5 separate regions of the Homo sapiens genome follow, and all the other regions are reported to be linked to region 5. The links are microRNA targets in miRTarBase. Many come from high-throughput screens and were not tested one by one. Region 5 holds a microRNA gene; each other region holds the end of a gene's coding sequence. Distances are between the middles of the regions.

Region 1 (4,000 bases), not on the chromosome of region 5:
GAAAACCGACACTCTGGGGTGACGAAACAATTTGCTCAAGATCACAGGGCTGTTTACTGTGGAGTACAATTCAAACCCAGGTTTGACTCCCACCAAAACCAGTTTTAAATCTCCTTCCAACTTCTTTACAAGCTCAACCTTACCCATCTACATATAAATGTTGCACTTAAAAACAACCATAGGGTGGCTCACGCCTGTAATCCCAGCATTTTGGGAGGCAGAGGCGGGAGGATGCCTTGAGGCCAGGAGTTCAAGACCAGCCCGAGCAGCATAGTGAAACCTGTCTCTACCAAAAATACAAAAAAAATAAAATTAGCCGCGTATTGGCGAGCACCTGCAATTCTACCTACTCGAGAGGCTGAGACGGAAAGATTGCCTAAGTCCAGGAGGCTGAGGCTGCAGTGAGCTATAATGGGGCCACTGCACTCCAGCCTGGGCAACAGTGAGACCCTGACTCAAAAAAAAATGACGATAACCAACGCACCCTCACACTTCTTTGAGCCCTCTGCTGTTCTAGGTTTACAAAGCTGGGCTTTCAATTCCCTTCCCATGTCACCTCGCTGTCTTCCTGAGTTCAATTAAAGAAAACAGTAACAGCAAGAGGCTGACGTTATTGGAACCCTTTTTGGGCCGCAGGTCTTGCTTCTACGAGGCCCTTTTGAAGTGGTAAGTGGTGTTCCTGCACCCCTTGCACAAGGAAGAAAAGGGAGGCCCACAGAGCTGGGAGTCCTCCAGGCCTCATCCCTTGCCCTTTGCCGATCCCTGTGCTCCTTCCCTCGCCGGCCTCCAGATTTCATCTCTCGTCCCTAGCACGTCCCCCAGCCCCTATCCCTCGCCAGCTTCCACCTCTTACCCCTCTCTGCGCCCCGGGCTCCATCCTTCGCTCCTAACGCGGCCCCTGGCTCTATCCCCTCGCTCCTAGCTCGTCCCCAGGATCCACCCTCTCCCCTCACTGATCCCCGGGCTCCACCCATCCCCCCTCGCCGTCCTCCGGGTTCCACCCCTCGCTACTCGCCGCCCTCCGGGCTCCATCTCTCGCCCCCGCACACCTTCTTGAGCTTTTGCTGCTGCACGACGCGCGCCTTCTTGGGAGCGATAACACGACCTGGGGAAAGATGTGCTCACGTGAGGCCGGGAAGCCGGGGGTCCACCTCGCCCCCAAGTCCCCGGGCCGCTCCTTACCGCCTTTTCTTGGGCCCCGATTCTTTTCAGAGGCTGCCGCTGCCGTCTTACTCTTTGCGGGTTTGTGCGCCTGAAACTTGCGCTGCCCCTGCGCCATGGTCCGGCACGCAGCGGAAGAGGCGGGACTGTGAGCAGTCGTAGCCGGAAGGCACAGGGAACCATGGGATACAGCGGGGCGGAAAAACGCAAGAACTCACGGGATACAACGTGGCACAGAGTTAAAGAGACAGCATCCCACAAGGGTAGTGTAGTGGATCACAGTTGGAGTTTTCAAACATTACGAACAAAACGGTGACAATGATAAGCTAACGTTTATTGAGAGCTTATGTGTTTTAGAAAACTTACAACGTTTTATGATCTTTACACATAAAAACTCAGACTAGGTTAGGGTGTGGCACTCACCTCTGGTACAGAATTTAAGAAGGTTCAAAAACTTTGGTAATAGTAAACAATATTTTCAAGACTTAAAAAATATTTTAATATCCAAAATAATCAAATTGTTAAACTACATCCTGCAGACCGGCAGCATAATTTTGTAAATAAAGTTTTAGTGGAACCAGGGTGTTGAGGTCAGTAAGCTCAAGGCACAAGTGCGGGGTTCTAGCCTCTTCAAAATTTTATTTAGGCCGGGCACGGTGGCTCACGCTTGTAATCCCAGCACTTTCGGAGGCCGCGGGGCGCGGATCACCCGAGGTCAGGAGTTGGAGACCAGCCACGACTAACATGGTGTCTCCAATAAAAATACAAAAATTAGCCAGGCATAGTGCCAGGCTCCTGTAATCCCAGCTACTCGGGAGGCTGAGGCAGGAGAGTCGCTTGAACCCAGAAGGCGGAGGTTGCAGTGAGCTGAGATGGCACCACTGTACTCCAGCCTGGGCGACAGAGCGAGACCCCGTCTCAAACAAATACTTGTTTTGTTCATCATGGATTTTTTTTTTTTTTTAAAGAGATGGGGTCTCACTCTGTTGCTTAGGGTGAAGTGCAGTAGTGCAATCAAAGCACACTGCATCCTTGAACTCCTGGGCTCAAGCCATCCTCCCACTTCAGCCTGAGTAGCTGGGGCTAGAGGTGTGAGTTCCATGCCCAGCTCATTGTTTTTAAATTTTTGTTTGTAGAGACAAGCTCTTCCTATGTTACCCAAACTGGTCTCAAACACCTGGGCTCAAGGGATCCTCCCAAAGTGCTGGAATTACAGGCATGAGCCACCAAGCCTGGCCTCATCATGGATTTTTGCATTAATTTTGATTTTTAAAAAATACTGCTGTAAGGTCAGGCACAGTGGCTCATGCCTGTAGTCCCAGCACTTTGGGAGGCTGAGGCAGGGGGATCATTTGAGTCAGGAGTTCGAGACCAGCCTGGCCAACATGGTGAAATCATGTCTCTACTAAAAATAGAAAAATTAGCTGGGCATGGTGGCGCATGCCTGTAATCCCAGCTACTCAGGAGGCTGTGGCAGGAGAATCGCTTGAACCGGGGAGGCACAGGTTTCAGTGAGCTGAGATCTCGCCTCTACATTCCAGCCTGGGTAACGAGTGATACTTGATCTCAAAAAAAAAAAACCCAAAACAAAATATTGCTTTAAAATATTTTTTATCTTGGTTGCTGAGCTTTTTTGGTGTCCTCTTAAAATTCTGCCCTGGAGATGTCACCCTAGCTCCAGCCCTGACCTTAAGAGGGAGGTACTAGTATTATCCACATTTATTTTTTATTTTTTTAATTAAATAATTAATTAATTATATTTATTTTTGAGACGGAGTCTCGCTCTGTTGCCCAGGCTGGAGTGCAGTGGCGCTATCTCGGCTCACTGCAAGCTCTGCCTCCCAGTTTCACGCCATTCTCCTGCCTCAGCCTCCCAAGTAGCTGGGACTGCAGGTGCCCACCACCACACCCGGCTAATTTTTTGTATTTTTAGTAGAGATGGGGTTTCACCATGTTAGCCAGGATGGTCTCAATCTCCTGATCTTGTGATCCACCTGCCTCGGCCTCCCAAAGTGCTGGGATTACAGGTGTGAGCCACTGCGCCCGGCCTGTTATCCACATTTTATAAATGAGGAAACCAAGGCACAGAGAGGTGAAGTGACTTGCCCAAGATCATACAGTGGGAAAAGTGGCGGAGTCAGGATTTGAATCTGGGCAGCCTGGCTCTAGGTGCTGGGCTCTAGATGGAAGGCCCTGTCTGAGCTCCCTGCACTAGGAACAAGTGTGGTCAGGGGCTGGACGGTCAGCTTTTGGGTAGCCATTCAAGAAATGTATTGAAAAACCTAGAGAGGCAGGCTAGGGAGAGCTGAGTTGGTTACATCTGGGGTCCATCTAGGGTTCCATCCCTGGAAGAGATGGTGGTGGTTAGGGCTGTCCGGAGCTCCTCAGGGGCAAAGACCCCCAGTTCTGTGATGATGCCACCAGTGATGAGGTCGTGGGGGGTGACATCGAAGGCAGGATTCCAAACTCCAATCCCTGCAGGGGAGAGAGGGGAGGCAAGGAGGCAAGAATTTGCTTCTGTGAAAGTTCTCAGGTTGTAGTCATCTGTTTCTACCACAGTGGTTCTTGGAGTTGGGGAGTCCTTGAGAACCTGAGGATTCTCACCCCAAAAGTACATGCAGGCATGGACATTGTACTCAATAGTAAGTTTAGACTCGCCACTGCCCCTAGAATGTCAGTCCCCAAGAAAAATTCAAAGTCCTATACACATCTATGCCACTTATTTTTTTATTTTTTGTGAGATGTAGTTTTGCTCTTGTTGCCCAGGCTGGAGTGCAATGGCACGATCTTGGTTCACTGCAACCTCCACCTCCCAGGTTTCAAGCAATTCTCCTGCCTC
Region 2 (4,000 bases), not on the chromosome of region 5:
CTCCGTGGGGATTACTGAGGACCATGTGAGATTCAACTGATAAGAGTGTTTATATGTAAGACATGTCCTGGTGGGGTGTGTGTGGGAGTGATATGCCTTCCAAAAACTTAAAAAAATTAAGTTGCCATCCAGGAGTCCAATGGACAAGATTGATCACAAGCTGACTTTTGGAAAAGTGTGACTGAAGAGTTTCCCAACAGGCAAAACCACACTAACCACAGTGTAATCTTGGAAGAGCAGATCTGGAATGCGGCTGTATTTGGGGAAGTGAAACTGAAGATGGGAGTATAGTTCTCACACTGAAGAGCATGCAAATCACCAAGGAAACTTGCTCACGCCAGAATGCTGAGCTGCACCCCAGCCCTAGGGAACCTGTCTCTAGAGAGGGACTTAGGAACGGATCTGTGGTTTAAACATTTTCCAGTGACTTTTATGTGCACCAAAGTTAAAGCACCTCTCGCCTAGAGCATAAAAAAGGAGCTGGAGATGCTGATTCCAGGCAGTCAACAGGCAGCCACATTCCACTGGGAAACTCTGGAGTTTTAGGGCAGTGAATGGAGAAAAGGGGAAATCCGAGAGTAGGGGCGATCAGGACAGGCACCAATATGCAGTCCCAAAGTGCAAATGAAGTCTTTGCATATTTTTCACCAGAAGTGACTCTCATAAAATAAATCTCTCCAAAGACTACTTTTGCTGTACATCTGGCTTTTCCCTTATATTCACAGAAATATTCCCATTTTGTCCAATATATTTTTTTCAGTGAATCACAATTAAAAAACAAACATGTACTTCTAATATCTGAGAAATAAACCAAGAAAGGACAAGAGCTATTAGGAGTGTTCTCTTTATTTCTCTTTGGTTTCTTAACACAAAAGACATGCATTCTATAAATAAAAGGAACTAAGATTTTCTGGGAAACCATAAATTGGGAGGAATTCCCACAGTCACACCTCTGTGGTCAAGAGGATGGTCTTCAGCCCCCATCTGGCTGTAATCTCTGATGAAATCCAGAAGAGAAGGCCCGTGTGTTATCCAAGAAGGTGAAACACTCAAGGACAGTGAATGCCACAGTCCTCTGCTCAGAGCTGGGCTAGGCCCCAAGGCCCACTGAGTACAATGTCTACCCTATCTCCTTGTTACATCCTTTTTACAATATCCTTGGGTGATGCTTCTTTTCATGGGGCTATTGGAAAGGCTCCAACACCAAAGAGCCAGACCAGCCATTTACGAATAGCCATTCACCATCGGACTGAGGAACCTACTGGGAGAGTGTGAATATGTTGGTGTTTCCTGACTTGTGCTCAGAGCCCAGATCAAAACACTGGCTTGATCTTACTTTGAAACATCGACCTCAGGTGCAGCAGTGTAAATTCTACACCAGGAGGTGGGATTGGACTCAGGAAGTCCACTACAAGAGCAGCAGGCCATGGTAGAAAATGATCTGCCATACCCAGTGGCAAAATCTGGGCCAGTATCCTAAGGACCCACTCAGTAGCCCACAGACCGATTCTTAATACCTTCACAATCCAGGCTTGTTGGTGCTACTTCAAATTCACAAAAGAAAGGGGCTTATAATAAGACAAGCACTGATACACTCCTAACAGGAAATGCACACCCCACCCACCTTCCGAGTCTACCCCTACAGGCAAACCAGGAAGGAGGGAGAAATGCTGGAGCCCTACCACGAGCCCAGGTTAAACGACATCCGATATCAGATTGTTGAGACGTTAAAAATAAAAATATCATTTTCAAGTGCTTGTAGCAGAGGCCTAGCTCCTAAGTTGTAGGTAACAAAGGTACTTCCCTCTGAATACATGGCGATTGCACACACTGGTAAACCTGACGGTCCTGGGGTGGGGGAGACACCCCAGGCTCCACATTGTGCCTTTCTGAACAGGCTTCCAGGCCACCCCAGGCAGGCAGCAAAGGATAGGAAACCAAGCAGGTGGAGACTGGAGCCCTAAGACTCAGTCTTGGGTTACAGGAATTGAATCTTCTTTTAGTCTCTACTGGAAGAATTTTAGAAAACCAATTTTGGCAGCAGCAGTTGAAGGACAGCCCCACTGCCCAGTGCACTGGCAAGAGAAAATGTCCTCCTCTTTGAGTCCCGCTGTGCTACATTAGGTCCTATCCAGGGAGGAGGAAGCAATATGAAATCTTTCCAAAAGGTAAAGGTCATTTGCCAAGATTAGAGGAAGAAATATAAAATCTGTTCTTTGCAGCAGCAAGAGATTCTTTCGGCCTTTAGTTCTTTATGTCATAAAAGCCAGCTGTGCTTGAATGTAAAGGTCCACCTTGCTGGTCAGTCTGCCCAGGGCTGGAGGGAGGCCAGACTCTTGGGATTGGCGAGTGGATGGAGGAGCAGTGGAATGGCAGAGCAGACAAGGTTACCAGACCAAGCCCGCCCACAGCTGGTAGAAGGAAGCCCTGGTTAGGTTCTAGAGGTGCATATGGTCAACGTGCCCCAGAAGCATCACAATGAGGGAAATCATCCAAGAACGAGATTGATGGGCAAGTGAGAATCTGGCCAGACCTGCTGTTTCCTGCTGGTCAAAAAAGGAAGCAATGTTAGTGAGAGTGGGGAATCTGAATGAGCGCCATGGTGGCAGTAGGAGGTAATCACAGGGGCGCCTGGAGCCCCCAGCCACAGCTAGGAGCCCCCACCAAGAAGAGTGGCAGTAATTCAGCAGATAGCCTAACTCTCTACGCCTATGATTTTAAAAGTCCTCTGATGGTGGGTGAGAAGACAAACCCCATGAGCACCTTACTACAGGCCCAGTCAAGAGTGCACTGATTCCACACACACTGGGGCTCAGAGGGAACCCCCAGCTCAATGCGAGGCCTCAGGACCCTGGGATCCGAATGTGGGGTGGATACCGCCCTTCTCCAGTTAGACGATTTTCCATTTAAACATAGATTTGCCGTTAGTGTCTTTTATGCTTTTTTCTTCTTGCAAAATTTGTTCACATAAAAAAATTATTTTTCTTTCCAGTTTCTTTCAAGTGTTTCTTTGTTTAAATTTCCTTCAGTTTCTTTCAAGTATCTTTTTTTCCCTTCTGTTCTCCTGGACAGATCAAAAGGCCTCACTGAAATCCCAAAATTAGACATGGGGAAAACTTCTCTTCTCCCTGCTTACCCAGCAATGAGGACAGAATCCTTGGTGCCCCACTGTGGAAGAAGGAATGTGCCTGTGTGCAGCCTTCCACTGCTGTGGCCACACCATCTCAGGCAGGGAGAACGCTTGGGTCTGTCCTTTCGTCCCCAGCTACATCCCAGTTTCCAGCAGGCTTGGACACTGCAGCCTCCCCATGGCAAATTGGCCAGACTCGGCTGGAGAGCAAGCAGGCGATGGGGAGCATCAGATGGAAGGCCTTCTGTGAACAGCTGGCCCACAGAGAGGCGGTGGGTAGGAGCTGGGCCTGGATGGAGCCTGTGTTCATGTGGACCAGAAAACAGTTCCATGTCACCAGCTGCAGGATCCAGAGGAGCTTGTGTTCCATGCTGTGCATCTTGATGACCCAAGCCTGAAGGTCACAAGGGTGGCACAGTGGGGGAGGGCTTAAGCACCTGGAAAAACTGTACCTCCGGCGAGCTCACGTTTCGCCATCTCTTCTGGTCCACTGCCTCTCCTGAGGGACTGTTCCTGGAAGGAAGCGCCTATGTCTGTACCAGATCCCTGCCCCACCACATCCCATCCTCTGCCTTAGATGGTGAGGAGAGGGATGCAGCCCACACCGACCCCTCCCTCATGGCACGCCATGGGGGCCATGAATGTCCAGCAGTCTGTCTCTGGGTCATACATCTCCACTGAGCTTAGGTTTGACTGTCCGTCGTAGCCCCCAACAGCGTAGAGGCGCCCACAGCTGGCCACCAGGGAGACCCGGCTCCTGCGCGTGTGCATGGGGACAATCAGGCACCACTGGTCTGCCACAGAGCTGTACATCTCGGCAATGCTGAGGAAGCCAGAGCCATCGTAGCCCCCGCAGACAAACATCTTGCT
Region 3 (4,000 bases), not on the chromosome of region 5:
TTTGTGTATTTTGGCTTTTGTTGCCACTGCTTTTGGTGTTTTAGTCATGAAGTCCTTGCCCATGCCTATGTCCTGAATGATACTGCCTAGGTTTTCTTCTAGGGTTTTTATGGTTTTAGGTCTAACATTTAAGCCTTTAATCCATCTTGAATTAATTTTTGTATAAAGTGTAAGGAAGGGATCCAGTTTCAGCTTTCTACATATGGCTAGTCAGTTTTCCCAGCACCAGTAGGGAATCCTTTCCCCATTTCTTGTTTTTGTCAGGTTTGTCAAAGATCAGATGGTTGTAGATGTGTGTTATTATTTCTGAGGGCTCTATTCTGTTCCATTGGTCTATGTCTCTGTTTTGGTACCAGTACCATGCTGTTTTGGTTACTGTAGCCTTGTAGTATAGTTTGAAGTCAGGTAGCATGATGCCTCCAGCTTTATTCTTTTTGCTTAGGATTGTCTTGGCAATGCAGGCTCTTTTTTTAGCTCCATATGAACTTTAAAGCAGTGTTTTCCAATTCTGTGAAGAAAGTTCTTGGTAGCTTGATGGGGATGGCATTGAATCTATAAATTACCTTGGGCAGTATGGCCATTTTCACAATATTGATTCTTCCTATCCATGAGCATGGAATGTTCTTCCATTTGTTTGTGTCCTCTTTTATTTCGTTGAGCAGTGGTTTGTAGTTCTCTTTGAATTAATTGCCTCCCACAGGGGTTTCTTCTTTATTAGTCTTACTAGTACTCTATCTATTTTGTTGATCTTTTCAAAAAACCAGCTCCTGGATTCATTGATTTTTTGAAGGGTTTTTTTTTGTGTGTGTGTGTCTCTATCTCCTTCAGTTCTGCTCTGATGTTAGTTATTTCTTGCCTTCTGCTAGCTTTTGAATGTGTTTGCTCTTGCTTCTCTAGTTTTTTTAATTGTGATGTTAGGGTGTCGATTTTCGATCTTTTCTGCTTTCTCTTGTGGGCATTTAGTGCTATAAATTTCCCTCTACACACTGCTTCAAATGTGTCCCAGAGATTCTGGTATGTTGTGTCTTTGTTCTCATTGGTTTCAAAGAACATCTTTATTTCTGCCTTCATTTCGTTATTTACCCAGTAGTGTTGACATATTTTTAATGTAGAATTAAATTTAATGAACCATTCTTTCTGGAAATCAACTGTATTTTGGTTTCACTGCCTATCGAATATAGCATTTTAGCTGGTTTCTCAAGGTTAAGATTTCCAACTTCTCACCAAAAACCTACAGGTATCTCAAACAAGTGATGATCTCAGGAATGTGAATAATTGGCAGGAAAAGGAGACAGATGTGGCAGGTTACAGAAAGAACCAAAAGAAGATCCAAGTTGTTAACCATTGTTGTCAACACACTACTGTAATTTTTTTCTAAATTTAAAAAACCTTATATTGTAAAGAAACAAGTAACCATTCTGAAACCTAAGAACAAAAATCAAAAGACCTTAAAACAATCTTGAGAAAATCTGTCACAAGGCAAAATTTTATTTTTTCAAGTTACAAAAATAGGAGCATGTCAAAAATACAGTCTAGTCCTTATACGAGTAGTTCCAGCCATTTAAAAGTTATACAGAGTTTGGAAAAAGCAGTTTATATACAAGTCTTAAAACACAACAATCATGAACAATGCACACCGTTCAATGTAGTTATTGCTAGTTATATGCAGCTTTTAGTTACCATTGTTCTTCTCTGTAAGGGAAAGGACAGCATTTGGACATTCTGATTGTTGCTGCTGAAGCTGTGGTTTTGGAAAATCAATCCAAAATAAGAATAAGCTCACTATGAGTAGAATAAAACGTGTAAGTTTCAATCAGTACTACAAGAAAGCATGGTTTAAATTTGAGTTCCATACAATTCTACATAACTCTATTTTGTTACTATAACAGAAATACAGTGTATAGTTTTGGGCAAGAGTAAATGAATTACTGGTTTTATAATTAAGTGAAAAGAAACAGTTTTTGGTTGCAATGTAGAAACAAAGCTGGCATATCTAGCTTACAAACATTAAAAAATGGAAAAGATATTTAATGTTTAAGCAAAAGCTGAACCTAGGTTATTTACCTTTAGAAATTAAGAGATAAAGTTAAGCATTTTGTTCTTTTGAGGATTATCATGAAGATTTGCTATTCTCTATTTTCTTTTTAAAAAGAAGAGTTATCCACATAGCGGGAACATATTTTGAAACAGATCTATTTGCTCAATGTCATATGGAAGAACAAATCACAAAATTAAATAATTCTACCTTTAAATAATTAAAGATAATGCAGTTGACAGTACAAAGCACTGGGAAAAAATCACTTATTTGGGGGATGTGTGATACATAAGAAACTTTGGGCCTAAAGTTCACATGGAAGACTGGAAGACTTAAAATTTAAGGGTGTCACCAAAAGATAACAATGGCTTTGACTCCAACTCTCATGTTAGACCCTGTTAAAAGGTTAGGTTTATTGCTGTTATTTTACCCCAGTAAGTTATTGAATAAATGGAGATATACATTGGTGATAAGTATGAGGTGAAGTAAAAAGATCTAAAAATATTAGTCTTAGAACAAAAATGACACTCATGATCACTTGGCAAGGATACTTATTTACTTAGTGATTTAAATCCTAAAAATAAGCTACATTTTTAGGAGGTAGAAAACAAGTACCAATAGTTTACCATTTGGCCACCCTCCTTACTTTTGGCTTCAGCCTTGGATTTCTATTTCTCATTCCCTATTCTCCTGTTAAAGCTATTAGTTCTACTACCATTCATTACCTAAATGTATAGACCTGGAGCTGCCAAGAAAAATCTTTTTAGGAAGCTTTGCTTTTAAGCCACCAAATGCACCCAATACTCAGATATCAACTGAGAACGTTTTGCACCTCTCTAGTTGATTAATTTACTTCACACAAAAAAATGCCAAAACAAAAATTACTTAAAATGAAAAACGACCACTGAACATCTCTATATGCAATTCCAGTATGTCAGAGTAGTTATGTAAACCTAAATCTGTACTATTTTCACTGAACTGATTTGAAAAAGCCATATATTAAAATGGCATTACCAGTGTTAACTGAAAACAGGCAACGTGTTTTACTAGAAAATTAACCTAATAACCAAAAAACTCCACTTCTTCCCAGAGTGTTATATTGTGCTGACATCCCATAGATAATATTATAAAAAGATTTTATTTTTGCAATAGGCTGGGTTCACAGTGAGTATGTTAGTACCAAGATCATGTGTTTAATATTATTATAAGAATGTCATTAGTGGAATGTATATAAGGCATGTAAAAAAATAGTTTTAAAGCTCTTAGAGGGCAATGCTCCAAACTGGCAGCTGCTAGAAAAGGTGCTGACAGGAATAGAAAATATTAAAGAAATTTAGTTTCAGCACATATTATAGTGCTTCTACAATCAAAATAATTCACATAAATTTCAATTGCTGGAACTAATGGACCAAATGAGAATGGACTTTTGCCCCTTTAACTACTAGACCAATCTTGAAAACGGAAGCAATCACTTGCAATCTTCCACACAGTATTGTTGGGAGTGGACTGAGCAGTCAGCAGGAAGTTCTGGTTGAAGAAATGTTGTTTGTTTCCATCAAACTTCACAGTTCCACTGGTCACAACAAGAACTGTAGTTTGGGACTGAGTTGCTTGCTCTTCATCCACATTAAAAAAAAAAGAGAACACATCATTTTCTATCTCTAAATAAGCAGATTTTCAGGCTTAAAATACATTGTTTATGGACTAATGCTTAAAATTTTTTTCATACACTTTCTGTCCCTTGAGCATAATCTTAAGCATGCATACTCAAACCCAGAAAACTAAGTACTTAGTAAAAGATATTAAAATTATTTTCAGTCCAGAAAACTTTGGGATACTCTAGTTTCAAAATGAGGAGCTTATATCTAGCATAGGACCATTTGCTTCATATATATATAAATATTTCAGAATTAATATTTCAGGTTTCTAACAGAGCTTATTCATGCTTTGCTTCTTAAACTATTG
Region 4 (4,000 bases), 19 Mb from region 5:
CATTGTTTGGAGGATACAAATAGATGAAGATGGGAAGGTTTTTCCAAAGCTGGATCTTCTCACCAAAGTCCCACAGCGAGGTAGGGCCCTGGGTGTGGCTGCTCTAGGTGACTTCTCAACATGCCCAGCAAAGCCGCCTGCCTGTTTCCTCTGGGTTTCAAAGGGCAAGAATCAAAAATTGGAAATCTCATTAATGTACTTTGTCTATCAATTTTTAAATATTTTTATCAATAATCACTCAAAAAGAACATGAAAAGGGATTGCTGCCCCAAGGCCCTCCCAGGCTGAATGCACAGGGAATATGCCTCCAGCCGTAGGTGAGGCCTCCACTCACTCCATCTCCTCGCCCGCCACTAGCATGTCCCATCCCATGCAGCTAGTCGGGAGGAGTGCGGGGTCTTGGTGAGGTCCATGCCAGCAGAAAACAAAAGACCAAAAGCTGCCACCTTGAAGTTTCTTACCCGGTTTAATGTTTTCTTTATAGCCCTGGAGCTGGACAAGAACAGAGCCATAGAAACTGCTCCTCTCAGCTTCCGAACCCTGGTAGGACTGCTTGGAATCGAAGCTGCTCTGGAAAGCCTGATAAAATCGCTTTGTGCAGAGGAGAACAACTAGTTCCAAAACAGTGAACGTGGAGGATGAAGATGCTGCGTGGAGGAACATGCAATTTTATTCAATATAAACATTTGCTATTTTCTGCTTAGAAACCACACCCTGAAGACGTGCTGTCTATGCAGTTATGGCACATTATATGGAAACTCTCATGACATGAAAAATAAATACAACTAGTTAAGTATAAAATGCCAAATAAAAGTGACACGTACAATGTGGTTTATAAAAATAAGCTTAACATCTGAGAAAATGTACCAAGTGGTTGTGTGTCCTCAGATGTGTGGGGAGGATCCATCCCCCACCCACTGCAGCCTCACACCGAGTCCACCTTGGACATGGTGGCCACATTACTCAGCTGGGAGAAGCCACCCTTATCCTGGTTCCTGCCTCCTGGGGGCTCTGGAGACGGATGCCTATGGCGCCTCATCTTTAAACTGTCCTTAGTAGCCCAGGGGAGCCACACCCTCACTCCCTGCCTCCCCCCGGTCCGCATGGTGGCACCGTGAGGCAGTCTCAGCAAGTCCTCATGCTGTTCTTGGTCTTCCACAAGAAAGTGAAGCTGTCAGCTTAATAACAAGAATGGCCTAAGACAGCAAAGACAGCACTGTTCCTGGGCTGGGACGCAAGGAATGAGGTCCTTTATGAAAGAAAGACCCCCCTGCATAGCCTAAGTGCTATATCGATCGTCCCGGATGTGCCTTAAGAACCGTGACCTCATCAGTCGCCCATTTAGCATTGTTAAGATCTGTGAACGCGTGTTGTCTCAAACCAGTCAGGGCCGTCATGACTACGCAGCAGCAGCAGTTTCCAAGACGGGCCAGAAACGCATCCACAGCAGTGGCACCCGCGGCTCAGGGGCTCCTCACAGCCCGGGCTGGTGGGAGCCAAGACCAGACAGAGTGGGGGTCTCCATCTGTTTTCTCTTCTCCCTCAAATACAGGCTGTTTTCATCGTGTCTAGTCCAGCCCTGTCTGGGCCCTGTGCTAGGCAATAACTCTTGCAGCCCTGAAGGACCTAGGGAGCCCAGCCCACCTTCCCACGGACTGGGGTTCCCTCACATGTGCACTTGAACCCAGGACCCAGCATCCTCCACACACCGTGACAATGGGCAAAATCATCCCAAACCAGGCTGCCCCAGCCCCAGCCCAGCAACAGTGAACTCCCTTGGGTCAAGACAGTACTCAACGGCCACTACCTCCACGCTTCCCAGAGCCTGCGGCTTGTCCGTGAGCTCCGTGCACTTCACCAAAGCCCCCATCCCAGCACACAGGACCCGTGTGTATGAGACGGTGTCATTGGAAGTGAGAAGAAAACAGTAAAAGTGTCCAGTTAGATAAGTATCTTTTTGCACCTCTGAGAGTAGAATTAGAAGTAAATATGACAGAATTGAACAATAAATTCTAGAAGAGTTGCCTTGATTCAAACAAGTATAATTCTCAAGTTATCACAAAATTTCCCACAAAAATTTACAATCAGCAAAATAGTTTCCTTATTTCTCATGTATCATTTTCATATAATTCCATGGTTTCACTAATATTATATGTTACAATAAGCCTCCATTAGTCCCTCAAAACGATGATATAAATAAGTCTGTACAACCTAGCATAGAATAAAAAACTGAAACCAAGATTCCCAACGTTTTTCATAGCAGCCGGGCACACTTTGGTGACCCCAACGAGAACCCTCTCGGCAGCAGCCAGGAGCTGTTCACCTTCCAGAAGCAGGGCCTGTGGCAGCCTAACAGGGAGAGGCCACGGGGCCCAAAAACGCAACACGTCTCAAGGCAAACCCGAGGGAGGAACTTGGTCTGGGAGGAAGAGAGAACTCGCTCCTCAACCACCCCAGACACTGGAGTGTCAGGAAAGCACTGAGCTGTTGGGGCACACTGCCCAGCCCGGCCACAGCAGCTCAGCCAGTCACAGCTCCACCTCCAACTTCTACAGCAGCAATTTTTAGTGGGAAAGAACAGCTCATCTCCCCCTCATGTGAAAGATTAAATTGTAAAGCAAAAAAAAAAAGGTCAATGCTCGCATGAGTGGTGTCCATCCTGACCTGAGCCTTGCGCTCCCTGCTGCCCTGTGTGGAACTGTGGGCTTCAGCACCTCCACAGGGACCCTGAGTCTACACTGCTCAGAATCGGCATCTGCGCGACCACGAGGTCACGCTGTGCAGCAGGGAACCACCTAAAAACCTGTGTTGATATGTGGCTTGCACTGAAAAAGTGACCATGTAACTCAGCTGGGGGAAGTTCCAGTAGTATCCATGTTTTCTTAAAAGTCCAAACTGTAAAATGTATGTGACAATTCAAGTTTTCTATGTTAGGAGTCTGGTGGTAGCAGATCCAAACCTTGGGTCTTAGAATAAGGCTTTTCGCATTAGAGAATCAGACATGAGCCCTGGTTGGGAAAGAAGAACTATCCAGAACGTCTTCCCAGGGCTTAACGGACACTTCCATTTTAAGAGTGTGAGCAGCTTCCTGGGACACAGCACTCACTTCCTACATTCCTTGTCCAGGAAGTTGTTTCTAGTGCTCTTCAATTCCATGTCTCCAAGAGGCAATCCCACCTCAAAAGGGGTTAAAAGCAAAAACATTCACAACCAAAGGTCACCCAACACAACAGAAAATATCTCTATCATTCAGCCTTCACATTATGTTCAAGTTTCAAAGACACTGCAGGGAAAGAGTTAGACCTTGTGGAGAACTAATGTGCAATCTTCGCTTTCCTTGAACCGAGTCGACATCACGGCGTTGTCTTTGGCACGTACAGTCTTTGAATAATAGTTGACGATCTTGCCGTCCAGTTTATACTGATGGGGAATGCTCTCGTAGGGCTTGAGGTCAAGGTCCAGCACAGACACGGAAAAGGCAAACCTGGACCTCGATGAAGGGACGACAGGCCTTTGATCAGAGCTGCAAGTAAAAAGTACCATTTCAGGATACACAAGCCCCCCATTCATTTCCCTCCCTCCCGTTCTCTCTCCCTTTCTTCTTTCAACTAGTATGTTTTTATGTTTTTTCTTTGACTTCTGCAAAGTTAGATAAATCAATCTCTTTTAAAAGAGAAGTGAATGGCCTCACACCCCAGCTCACAAAGAGCACTCGTTCTGTGCACCTGTGATCTGTGCGTGTGACAGCTGTCTGTGCCGGCTGTGTGCACCAGCGTGCAAAGCTTCCTCAGGCCAGTGCACCCCACCATACCAGGCGAGAGAGGGTTAAAGGACTGAAAGATGGAAAAGTAATTATGTGGAACATGTGAGCGATGTTCCCCCAGCCCAGTGGTATAAACGAACGCTGAAAAATCACTTTATCATGAGCCAAGTATTACAAAACCCAACAAAAAGTAAAAAGTAGATCTGGCCATTCCAGCGCCAAATGGATGGAATGTCG
Region 5 (4,412 bases):
GTTTCACCATGTTGGCCAGGCTAGTCTTGAACTCCTGACCTCGTGATCCGCCCGCCTCAGCCTCCCAAAGTGCTGGGATTACAGGCATGAGCCACTGCATCCAGCCTAAAATACTTGTTTTTAAAGGAGATCACTGCCTTGTGTGAGAATTCTTTTAAATTTTTTAAAAACTGAAGTGTGTTTTAAATACAAATTCTGTCATGATTGTGTTCATGTGGTTCATGGTTTCCTAGTGTCTCCCATGAGATCCATAATGCCACTTTCTGTTTACATGTCTTGTTGTTTGGTTAGTAGTCATCAGAGACTAATCTATTAAATATGGAGCCCTCTCCATTTTTTTTCAAAATGACTGCATTTTAAGTTTCTTAAATTGTAAAGTAAGGTGGGTACAGTTTCTTCTAGTTCTTAGATGGTGCTGTCACGGGCCAGCATAATTGCTAAAACATCCATACGTATGGTAGACCTTAAGTCATGTGCTAATCATGAAAGCTGGGCTCACCCTGAATACCGGCAGTTGCCTGGTCTTTATAATGATTACTGAATGCATAACCAGTTACGCTTGCATGTGTTCATCATCATAACTTATTTTCTAATTATCTTAATTTTCAGAGGTTGGAGGTTTGCAATGTCCACTCAAGTTGCAATGCAAAACTCTGGCTCATATTCAATTTCTCAGTTTCAATCCAGAATGATCAGGTAAATCAACTGTTTTCTTTTTATACTTCGTTAAAAGGAAAGTGGGGAGGGGGGTGGTAATTTTTACAGGTTTAATGTAGTTAAATGAATGTACCTAAAGGTTGAAGATTTTTGTTTAGTTGCAGAAAATAGAGTTTAACGTCTGTGTTTAAGATAAATTTAATGTCTAAATGTATTTTATTTGCTGTATAACACTGAAAGCACTCATTAGAGAAATGTTGAGACTGAATTTTTTAATATGCTGATCTTTATTTTCTAACTTTCTGTGCTGATTAAATTTTATTATCTGTATTCATCAGAGCGTAGGCCATACAAATGAATTTAAAGACATTTTTCTTTGACATCCTAGACAAAAATAGAAAAGAGAGTCATTAAAAAAAATTTTTAGGTTGTGTGTGGTGGCTCACACCTGTAATCCCAGCGCTTTGGGAGGCCAAGGCGAGAGGACTGCTTGAGCCCAGGAGTTTGAGACCAGCCTGGGCAAAATGGTGAAACCCTGTCTCTACAAAAAATGCAAAAATTAGCCAGGTGTGGTGGCGTGTACACCTGTGGTCCCAGCTACTTGGTGGGATGAGGTGGGAAGATCGCTTGAGCCTGGGAGATTGAAGCTACAGTGAGTGCCACTGCACTCCAGCCTGGGTGACAGAGCAGAACCCCGTCTCAAGTAAAAAAAAAAAAACAAAACAAAAAAAGTTTAAAGAGAATGGTCTTTCTATCACAGGGTAAAAAAATTGATTATTTGAGGGAAAAAAAAAAGGATTTGTCTTGTAGCCAGGATATTGTTTTAAAGAAAATCCTTTTTGTTTTTCCAGGTGGACCAAACTACGAATTAACATGCTTCCTGCTACAATAATTTGTGAGCCAATTTCAGAATGCTTTGTTGCCAGTTTAATTATTGGATGGGCAGCCCACCATGTGTTCAGATGGGATATTATGGTATTTTTCATGTGTCATTGCCTGGCATGGTTTATATTTGACTACATTCAACTCAGGGGTGTCCAGGTATGTGGATAGGCATGAAAAGGTTGGCAGTCCCTTGGTGGAACTAGAACTATTTCAATTTAGAAAAAGTTGAAGGAAATGTATCTGAGCCATTCTTCAGCTTCCCATTGTAGGTTAGTCTCGGGTTTGAACATGACTTTCTCTAGTGGAATGTTGATGCAAAACTTAAGTCGATTTGCAACTTTCTATTGGTTATATAATCGCTTTTATTAAGTTTCCAAAAACATGAAGTTAATTAAATCAGTGAGTATTGAAACTAATAAGACATTAAGATAGCAGTTATTTTAATGCTTCATTAACAATTAGCATTTTCTTGAACGGTATAACATGGCAGTTAAATTACATAAGGAAGCAGACTTGATTTTACATAGTATACTTAGAAAAGTGAAATCCAAGAATTTAATTTTTTAACCTTGTCTTTAGTTTGACAGTGAGTGAAATTAAAAAATTTTTTTTTCCATTCCTAGGGTGGCACACTGTGTTTTTCAAAACTTGATTATGCAGTCGCCTGGTTCATCCGCGAATCCATGACAATATACATTTTTTTGTCTGCATTATGGGACCCAACTATAAGCTGGAGAACTGGTCGCTACAGATTACGCTGTGGGGGTACAGCAGAGGAAATCCTAGATGTATAACTACAGCTTTGTGACTGTATATAAAGGAAAAAAGAGAAGTATTATAAATTATGTTTATATAAATGCTTTTAAAAATCTACCTTCTGTAGTTTTATCACATGTATGTTTTGGTATCTGTTCTTTAATTTATTTTTGCATGGCACTTGCATCTGTGAAAAAAAAAAAAAACACATCTGTAGTCTTGGCCAAATGATACACTTTATTTTGTGGAAGTAGAGAATCAAGAGAATTGGTTCTAGGAACCTGGGTTCGTTCATCATTGTTGTTTATTTTTTTAAAATAAATAAATAAATATATATATAGATGCTCTGCAACAAACTCTGTGACAGTATCCTTCAGTAGAGAAAGTTTCTTACTTGTGAGTACACTCTTTTAGAACATTTACGGGTGGCAGCAGCTTTGCTTTAGAGTTTAGAAGATAATAGAAGGAATGACTATTCATGTCCAAAGTGAATGGTTTTGTGCAGTGAACAACACATGGCGAGGTACTAACTGAGAAACTTTTTCATGCTTTATGCCTACCTCTTGTAGTTGTTGCAGAGCAAATATAAATTGTAATAAGATAGCTAGGCCTTGCAGAAACAAACAGAAAAACTTAAAAAAAAATGATATAAGAGCTGGAGTCTAGTATTTATATGAATCTGTGAGAGATAATTTTTTTGGTCTCACTGCAATGAACCAAAAGCGGCTGAGTTTGGTTTTTAATTGTAGCCATGTATTGAAGGCATCTTTTTGACCAACTCTTGTTGGTTCTGTCTTGAACCATTGTTAATCACTGTGCTGTAATTAGTATAGCTAAATCTTTTCCTTCCTTGCTCCTCCCCCAGCCCACCCCGTCTTCCCTTAACATTTTTTCAGGGGGGGTTGGGAGTGGTTTCATTTTAGTGTGAGTGGATGTTTTGATAGTTGTAAGGAAAAAATGCATTTCAGACACATTTCACACATGAGCTATTTTCTTACACAGTATGTCTTATTGTTAATAAGAATGTAATTTCATGATACAAGTATTTAATACCTTTTTTAAGTCAGTAAATATTCTAGCCATCAATAAATTGCAGTAGAGTATTAAGAGGGGACAGGATGAGTTTACTCTTAAAATTAATCAGTATCAAACTAAGTCTACTGTGTGTGTTTTTTTTTTTTGTTTTTTGTTTTTGTTTGTTTACTATTATAGTAAGTCTAGTCTTATTTAAATTGGATTTTTGTATTCAAGTTTATATGACAAAATAGACTAGATCAGCGCTGGTTGTAAATGCATGCTGTACCTCACTGTTTTCTCCCCATCATGCCGCTAAACTTGCTCGCCAGGTTGTGCTTAACTTGTGGTGAACTGGACTTGATTCTGTTTTGTTTTGTTTTTTTAAAAAAAAAAAACAAAAATGTAAGGGACAGTGCATAAGCCTTTTCTTTGTTAAGTAGTGGTGTTTTGCTTTTTCTTCAGGATTGGATGGCATGTTGTCCACAGGAATGCCTACTGCAGGGCTAACACTGGCAATATGGCAGCTTTAAATTCTGAGTTACTACAGTCTCCATGTCAAAGCATAATGTGTAGCATATCAGCAATAACTACATATTTATAGAAAACACTTTTTCACTTTACTGAGCCAATTCATTTAATTGTCAAATGTCTATATCCATGGTTTAAATGGCAACATATCTATAAGTATGTATACACATTATATTTAAGCTTTTCTCTGGGCCAAACTGCTTCATCCTTTTTTCTTTCTTTTTTTTTTTTTTTAGCCTTATGATGAATTTGTTTGAAGGGCATTTTCTTTATGAACAAAGGCTTGGATGCATATTCCTTTCTTTCTGTGAATGGGTATTATTCCCTGAGGAAAGTTGCACAGTGAAAACCAGTCTGGTTGTGACCCACTACATGTTTTGTTTTTAATCACTATTACCTGAGTTGAACTTTGCTCACCATGTTTGTACTTGTTGGTCTGTTTAATGAAGTTTGGTTGATGCCATCCTTTGCACTGCCGAAGCGTAATCTTGTGTATTACTTAGCTCTCTGCTGATCTCAGTATGGACAGTGTAACAACAAAACCAAAATGGCTGGACAGACTTCTTGTG

What was found. Region 5 holds the annotated microRNA hsa-miR-4668-5p (AGGGAAAAAAAAAAGGAUUUGUC, at 1,439-1,461, shown strand). A microRNA usually pairs through its seed, bases 2 to 8, with sites in the 3' UTR of a target mRNA and lowers its output. Matches are read on the target gene's strand: a 7mer-m8 pairs with bases 2 to 8, a 7mer-A1 pairs with bases 2 to 7 and ends in A, and an 8mer does both.
Region 1: the mRNA of MRI1 is a reported target of hsa-miR-4668-5p. Seed matches in the 3' UTR shown: 8mer at 3,282-3,289.
Region 2: the mRNA of KLHL18 is a reported target of hsa-miR-4668-5p. Seed matches in the 3' UTR shown: 7mer-m8 at 3,110-3,116 and 7mer-A1 at 912-918.
Region 3: miRTarBase lists NXT2 as a target of hsa-miR-4668-5p. Seed matches in the 3' UTR shown: 8mer at 2,288-2,295.
Region 4: the mRNA of IPPK is a reported target of hsa-miR-4668-5p. Seed matches in the 3' UTR shown: 7mer-A1 at 3,014-3,020 and 7mer-A1 at 2,569-2,575.

Annotation. Positions count from the first base shown.
Region 1 is chr19:13,771,757-13,775,756 of GRCh38, reverse strand. It overlaps MRI1 (methylthioribose-1-phosphate isomerase 1), which reads right to left. Exons shown (of 6, transcript NM_001031727.4): 6 at 1,475-3,636. The coding sequence ends at 3,476. It overlaps C19orf53 (chromosome 19 open reading frame 53), which reads right to left and starts at 1,301. Exons shown (of 3, transcript NM_014047.3): 1 at 1,183-1,301; 2 at 1,050-1,105. The coding sequence starts at 1,279. RefSeq lists enhancers at 236-764, 765-1,294, 1,271-1,470, 1,541-1,610.
Region 2 is chr3:47,343,645-47,347,644 of GRCh38, reverse strand. It overlaps KLHL18 (kelch like family member 18), which reads right to left. Exons shown (of 10, transcript NM_025010.5): 10 at 829-4,000. The coding sequence ends at 3,704. Among named protein-coding and RNA genes, the nearest start is that of PTPN23, 35 kb to the left of the region's middle.
Region 3 is chrX:109,542,158-109,546,157 of GRCh38, reverse strand. It overlaps NXT2 (nuclear transport factor 2 like export factor 2), which reads right to left. Exons shown (of 4, transcript NM_001242617.2): 4 at 1,460-3,651. The coding sequence ends at 3,470. Among named protein-coding and RNA genes, the nearest start is that of NXT2, 7.3 kb to the right of the region's middle.
Region 4 is chr9:92,612,535-92,616,534 of GRCh38, forward strand. It overlaps IPPK (inositol-pentakisphosphate 2-kinase), which reads right to left. Exons shown (of 13, transcript NM_022755.6): 13 at 649-3,523. The coding sequence ends at 3,298. CENPP (centromere protein P) reads left to right here. Exons shown (of 8, transcript NM_001012267.3): 7 at 1-80; 8 at 485-4,000. The coding sequence ends at 615. Among named protein-coding and RNA genes, the nearest start is that of IPPK, 56 kb to the right of the region's middle.
Region 5 is chr9:111,930,662-111,935,073 of GRCh38, forward strand. It overlaps MIR4668 (microRNA 4668), which reads left to right and starts at 1,439; the gene lies at 1,439-1,508. It overlaps UGCG (UDP-glucose ceramide glucosyltransferase), which reads left to right. Exons shown (of 9, transcript NM_003358.3): 7 at 610-696; 8 at 1,509-1,698; 9 at 2,166-4,412. The coding sequence ends at 2,336.